Homo sapiens: one gene and its partner. The protein of the gene in region 2 interacts with the protein of the main gene of each other region in a pairwise test. Each region holds a gene or a part of one and is shown on either strand. Other genes may lie near its edges. The genes, in order: DCK and TFEC.

What was found.
Region 1: the proteins of TFEC (region 2) and DCK interact in a two-hybrid assay, tested with the Homo sapiens proteins (one large-scale study listed by BioGRID and IntAct).

Annotation. Positions count from the first base shown.
Region 1 is NC_000004.12:71,027,707-71,031,414, reverse strand, and holds the end of DCK (deoxycytidine kinase), read right to left. Parts: intron 2,064-3,708; coding exon 2,037-2,063; 3' UTR 501-2,036; downstream 1-500. UniProt on the Homo sapiens protein: Phosphorylates the deoxyribonucleosides deoxycytidine, deoxyguanosine and deoxyadenosine. Has broad substrate specificity, and does not display selectivity based on the chirality of the substrate.
Region 2 is NC_000007.14:116,024,132-116,027,956, forward strand, and holds part of TFEC (transcription factor EC), read right to left. Parts: intron 1,656-3,825; exon of another isoform or gene 1,486-1,655; intron 1-1,485. UniProt on the Homo sapiens protein: Transcriptional regulator that acts as a repressor or an activator. Acts as a transcriptional repressor on minimal promoter containing element F (that includes an E-box sequence). Binds to element F in an E-box sequence-specific manner.

The DNA of each region.
Region 1 (3,708 bases), on a different chromosome or scaffold from region 2:
AGTGGCTGAGGCAGTATTGCTTGAGCCCAGGAGTTTAAGACTACAGTAAACTATAACTGCGCCACTGTACTCCGGCCTAGGCAACAGAACAAGACCCTCTCTCAAAACAAAAAAAAAAAAAAAATTAAAAGAAGAGGTAAGTTAGTCAAATGAAGAAGGCTATTATTTACCAGACTTAATGTTGCAATGTATCTAGCATTTTTCAAAGGCAATAACATCTATATCTCTATTTTAGAAACATTTTACAACTCTGTTCTTTAACATATGACAGACTTAAGTTCTAGGTGGCTCGGTATAAGTTTCAAGTTTTAGGCATAGCAGAAGAGAAAATTCTGGATGAGAAAAATAAGTCTTGTATTATTAATTACCTTTCTAGGAGAGCAAACTATAAAGAGCAATAAATAAATTCTAATGGAAGACATGATATAGGTAATAGATCCAAGAGATAATCCAGACCACCATTAGGCTCAATTCTATTATGACCACCACACTGAGACAACTTTTGAGTCATGACAAATAAATAATAAATTTTTATTAGCGTCTTTTCAATTCTACAAATTTTAAAAGTCATTATACATTTTTAAAGGTTACTAAAAATCACTGAAATATGTCTCCACTTAAAATGGAATCAAAGTAATTTATACAATTTTCACCTTTAATATTCATAATTTATTTAAAAGTAGAATAAATTTTAATTCTAAAATGATTATTACATCTTTTTAGAACTGAAATTACATTTCAATGAGTGTAGCTCCACTGTAGTTCATAAGGTTTATACTTAAGAAATATTTAATTAACAAATTAATTTATACCAAACAAAAACAAACTAAAAAAATGCATACGTATAATGAGACAGTTTATGTATGGTAATTACAGATTTGAAATTAAGTCTCCTTTGCAAAGATCAGTGCGTCTGGACTGGTTAATCCACTAAATTATCATCTTTGAATAAGAAACCAAAAACAAAAATGACTTGGAAAGAAAAATAGTAGTTTAAAAGTGAAAATGACTCTTCCCCTTATTTTAAAATACATAAAATTTTCTAAAACGTAAAATGGAAAGGTTTAATACACAGGAAAAACACTGCACACCTTAACTAAACAAACTAGAAAGAAAATATATTTATATACAGAACTAAGATGAGTCCATTCATTATTTTTACAAATATTCACATAGATGGTTTAGAGATAAGTAGTTAAGTGTGTCTCATTAATTAATGGATGCTTTCTAGCCTCTGTCTTCATTAATTTTATTTCCTATTCAACAAAAAATAATGCTTTCAGGATATATTACATATAGAGCAATATCATTTTTATCAGTAATTTGTCTGAAAAAGAGAAAAACTTAAAAGCAGAACCCTACAAAGCAAAGCAAACTACAAAGCAAAGAGTAATCACAGTGTTTGCAAAATAGAAATGTGTGACTTTAACTTTATAGCAGGCTGCCTAATTAATCCAGACAGTAGAGAAAGCAGACTGAGGCAGGAAGTAAGAGGTGGGACTAAACTGTTAAGAAGATAATAATTTAAAATAAAACTTCAGAATCCTTATTCTAGGGATTCCTTTAATTCCACTTTGCAACTTTTAATAGGTACACTAATTTACACAGGACACACTACCATTTACTATGTAACATTAAAGCTTTCAGTTTAAGAAACTGGTCACCAACGAAGTGAGAGGCACCAGGGAAAAAAGCCAACCTGCTGAGGAAGACAAAAGAGGGGAATGACAGAAGGAAGCTGGATCTTTTATAATGTAGTTTAGTCACTATGCTGATACTGGAACCATCTACCTCTACATTTCCTGCTATGAGAAATAATGTCTTTGTCTTTAAATGTCTTTTTTAAAAAAAAAACAAAAGAAAAGAAACTGGTCAAAAAGTTTTGCATAAGATTCATTTTAAAAATCTTTTTTCCTTAAAACAAAAACGATTAAAAACTTGGGTTTTCTAAAGAAACTTATATTAATATGAAGTTACGAAGATACACAAAGCTGAAGTATCTGGAACCATTTGGCTGCCTGTAGTCTTCAGCAAGATCACAAAGTACTCAAAAACTCTTTGACCTGAGGAAAGGAAGAAAAAAAAATCAGTATAATTCCTTGACTAATTTGAGGTATCTAATATTCATCTTCATTTAAAAGTATATAATAGTTGAAGACCCCAGCTGTATAAGTAACTACCACAATGCCATTGCATTTACTTTCCAAAGAAATATTGTTAAGGCCGGGCGCAGCGGCTCATGCCTGTAATTCTAGCATTTTGGGAGGCCGAGATGGGTGGATCACTTAAGGTCAGGAGTTTCAGACCAGCCTGGCCAACATGGTGAAACCCCCCATCTCTACTAAAAACACAAAAATAGGCCAGGCGCAGTGGCTCATGCCTATAATCCCAGCACTTTGGGAGGCCGAGGCGGGCAGATCACCTGCGGTCAGGAGTTCGAGACCTGCCTGACCAACATGGAGAAACCCCTTCTCTACTAAAAATACAAAATTAGCCGGGCATAGTGGCACATGCCTGTAATCCCAGCTACTAGGGAGGCCAAGGCAGAAGAATCGCTTGAACCTGGGAGGCAGAGGTTGTGGTGAGCTGAGATCGCGCCATCGCACTCCAGCCTGGGCAACAAGAGCAAAACTCCGTCTCAAAAAAAAAAAAAAATTAGCTAGGCATGGAGGCGTGCACTTGTAATCCCACCTACTTAGGAGGCTGAGGCAGAACTGGTTGAACCTGGGAGGTGGAGATGGCAGTGAGCCAAGATTGTGCCATTGCACTCCAGCCTGGGCGACGGAGCAAGACTGTCTCGAGAAAAAAAAGAAATATTGTTAAATACTTCAGTAGTAAAAGATGAATGACCTAAAAGGTCATTTTAGGAGTTATTTATTGCTCTGTCACCCAGGCTGAGTACAGTGGTGCAATCAAAGCTCACTGCAGCCTTGAACTCCTGGCTAGGTGCACACCATCATGTCTGGCTAGTTTTTGTTTGTTTTTTATAGAGATGAGGTCTCACTATGTTGCCCAAGCTGGTCAGGAACTCCTGGGCTCAAGCAGTCTTCCCACCTCAGCCTCCCAAAGTGCTGGGATTACAGGTGTGAGCCACTGCATCTATCAATCTAAGATAGATATAGTTCTAAAATAGCTGTAACACCAATTTTATAATCTCTTCATTTAAATATCATAGACCACTGACATATGCAGCTTTAACACTGATAACATTAATAAGCACAATAGTTCAAGCAACTTTGAAAATCAAACATGTAGTAGATTTGTCATGTTTCTGAAGCACATATGTGAATCACATACTTTGCAATGTCAGTGTGTGCAGAAAATCATGTAAGGAGTCAATGAACCTAGCCTACTGACCATAATGTAAGAATATGCTTGTTCTCTACATATTCTAGGCTACTCAATAATTCTCAAGAAACAAAAATTATTGCCTTGTAAAAATACCTTAATAAGAAAGTCAACTGCTAGCATTATTAATAAAAGTAAATATAATAATGTGAAATGATTCTTAGTCAAAACAAAGAAGTGTTAGATAAAATTAAAAAGTGATTTACAAAGTCAGTTAAATTGATGGTTGGCTGTTAATACTTAATGCTGACTTTTCATTTAATAGTATTGTAAGTGAATTTATCCTATATTTTTAACATCATTAGTAGTATGAAGAGGTCATTGGAATTTTCCAGATAAGCTTTAGTTCATACCATGGGA
Region 2 (3,825 bases):
TTCTGGTCCCATGTTACCTCTACAACTACTATTTTTGCAAATCTAATACAGTCAAAGGCCTCATTATCCATGTGTAAGCCTAGAAACCATTTTTAGCAAAACCGTGATTTCTGATTTTCTTCTACCCTTCTCCCTTGAACTGTTTCCCTTTCTCTCCTATGGAGAGGCGAGGTTGTTCAAAATGAATGAAAGAGAACAACAAAGACAAAGTTTAAATTTAAAAGGGTCCTAGAAAAGACTGTATAATCCATCTGGGCCTAAACAGCATCCAGACCTAGATCTAAGTCTTTGGCCAATCATTGCTCACTGTTCAGCTTTCACCTTGGGAAATTTACCTATCCTTCACAAATCTCAGTTTTCTTTTCTGAACACTGGAGACAACATTACTTGCCCCAAGAGTCTTGTCAGACAAAAATTAGATGATACATGTAAAGCCGTTAGTACATAAGGAGAGCCCAATCAATGTTTCCTATTACCACCTGTTTCAAAGAAGAGGAGAATATTTCATAAAATATACTGTTTTGATACTCAATACAACTCTTCTAAAATGACTGCTACTCAAGCAAGAATATTCAGCATTCAGGGTCTCACTTTTATCCCCCTGTTAAGAAGAGTACTTCATGTTTTAGCTTATCCATTTATTTTATACATTATTTCCATCTCCTATCATATTCCAGAATATCTTTGCTTGCTATTTTGTTTTAGCTTATCCATTTATTTTATACATTTTTTCCATCTCCTATCATATTCCAGAATATCTTTGCTTGCTCTTTTGTTGTTGTTGTTGTTGCTGCTATGGTTTTGTTTGTTTCATCTTTAGACAAACACCCCTTAAGCAACTGTTCATCAGCTGTCATATATCTCACTAAGTGTGGTCCATTAGGCCTGAATCCAAGTGAATTTAGAGACAGCTCGGTATAACCAGTGTTTCATATAAAAACAAATGGAGATGCAAATGAATTGGCAATACATTTTGAGAAAATATGGAACACTAGAGATGTCCTGTGAAGAAAAGGCAAATTAACAGTTACTTCTCAAATTATGCAAGGAGCTGCTTTTTCCTCTATTTCATTTTGTTCTAAAAAGCTCTGTCCTAAGGCAGGCTTCCCTGAGGCTGTTTGAATAGGAGAGAATATTAAGGAAAACAAGACCAGATGTATGAGACATTGGCCCATTGTTATGTTCTGTACTCTGAAAATCTTTCAGAAATGTGGGATGAAGGGCCTCAAAGGAAAAAGGAGAGAGGTCCTTCCTTTGCACTCTGAACTAGATTTCCAATCTTAGAGCTCCTAAATCCAACCCAAGTTTGATTTCTCAGGAGCAAATTCAGAGCTGCTCTTCAGGTACAAGAGACCTAGATTTAAGCACCACCAGACACTTCAACCTTCACCCTCAGGCCCAGCCCCAGCCTTTCACTCTCCACACTAGATATTAATTCAATGTGAAATCTTCAGGAAATACACACACACAGACAGACAGACTTACTCATAGTCACATGTCAAGTTGGTAGCAAGCTAAAAATGCTGAACTTCTGACTTCCCATTTCACAGTGTGTTCTATCAAACCAAGCAACCATAAAGAAATCACTGGATCACTTGTAAATATTTGCTCAGTCCACTGGTTTGCTAATCCATGTTCAGTTTAAGAGAGAATTGCTGCAGTAAAAAATGTAGTAGTACATCACCTTCAATTTTCTCATGAAGTACATTCTACCATCTTTTCAGCCTCTCTCTTCTTGCCAAAGGTACAACTATTTTGAAGGTATTACCCATAGTCACCACATACAGTCATTTTTGCTCTCTTAAATCGGATACAGAAACACTCTATCAACAAAAATTTAAAACTAATAACTCCAGTCTTTCACCCTCTAATGTGTCTTCCAAATGGCCAGAGCTGGAGAACATAAAACTAAACATAATCAAAATATGCTAAAACATAATCAAATCAAGCTCCTTCTCTGGGTAAACCCAACAACTCTTAAAAGCATAGCTGTTCATGGTCTGCCCCCACCTTAACTCTTCAGCCCCACTTCATGTTATTTCACACAATGGTTCCACTTCTAATCAAAGACCCCTGAATATGCCATGCTTTTCACAACTCTGCACATGCTAGTCTTTCGATCCACTGGACCTTTTGGCCCAATGCCTTCGCCTGCCTAAAGAATAGCTAATTCATTTTAAAGATATGCTTCACCCATCTTCTCTTTGAACCCTTTCCAGATTGGCAGATAATTCATATATACTTTCATTGTAACATTTGTCTCTGTAATTAATTGTTGAAATGCCTGAACTGCTCACTGGCAGGTAGCATACCTTATCCATCTTAGCATCCTCAGAACCTAGTACCGCACCAGGTACACTCCTCCTCTACTTGTACACCTCCATCTTAACTAACCTTACATAGATATTAATTAAATTACTGAACGAGGTAAAATCACATATTCTCTTCCTTCTCCAGAAAATGGTGTCATCAGTCATGTCACTGGGCAGATTCATCCACTGGCTTATTCCTACTGTAAGAGTGGATATGCTCAGAGCTTTTCAAACACTATTAGAAGGGTTAATAGAGAAAAATGGTTGTTTGCAACAAAAGCAATAGATGTTTTAACATTTGAAAGCAATGACAAAGTAAAGAAGGTTGAATATGTCTACAGAAAAATCTTTAACAGTAGGTGCAATTCTGATGAAAAGAGCAGATCATCCATCACATAAAAATTGCCTTGCACATGTGAAGGACAATCATAAGCTGTAGAAGAGGAAAAGTGATTGGCTAAGTGGGGAGAAACACTAGAGAGTATTACTAAAATATCAGATGCCTCTTAGCCAAATGTTAATTAAGAAGAAGCCTAGAATTTTACCAGAATTTAAAGGCTGGGGGTGAAAATGTTGCTGACAAACTTTCTATTGCAGACCTCAGATAGTTCAGTAGGTTCAAATCCATTTGAGTCTACACAGGGTCAAAGGGAACAGAGTGTTAACATATTAGCCCCTGAGAAGTTCTCTGCAGACATTGGCAGGGATAAATACCTGTCTATAGACAGATTGTCAATAATACGGTAGGTACTGGTCTAGATTTTGGGAGCGTGAGGAAAGATGCCGCATAGAATGAGTGCTGCAAGTGGAAAACAAGATATAGCCAAATATTTGATTGAACAGATAGGAAGTCTAGGCTTGGCAGGGTGTGGTTGCTCATGCCTGTAATCCCAGCATTTTGAGAGGCTGAGGCAACCACTTGAGTCCAGGGGTTTGAGACCAGCCTGGGCAACATGGCGAGACCCCCCATCTCTACAAAAAAATACAAAAAAATAAAAAGAAATTAGCTGGATATTATGGTGCATGCCTGTAGTACCAGCTACTCTGGGGGGTTGAGGCGGGAGGCTCTTTTGAGCCCGGGAGGTCGAGGCTGCAGTGGGTCCTGATCAAGCCACTACACTGAAGCCTGGGTGACAGAGTGAGACCCTGTCTCAAAAAAATTTTTTAAATGTGCAGGCTCACATTCTTACTTGGGTGGAAATACATCTAAGGAAGCTGAGCATTGGAAACATGTTTGTGCAAGAAAGAATAAAGAAGGGAATAAAGGGAGGTATAAAAGAAGTCTCTGGCTCAGTGGCAAACTGAGAAAGCATGTTTCAAGAAGAGAGACAATTTGAAAATACTCTTCCATGGTAACTCTTAGGAATGAACATTAGGAGGCATGAGAATCCTTATTAAAACTCCACCTCTACGTCCTAGACTCTCCTTTCAATTCCTTTTTTTAGATCGATTTTCAAATTCTCACCTATTCTTTCAAACCTGAAAAGAGAAAAGAGAAACAGAAACCTAACGG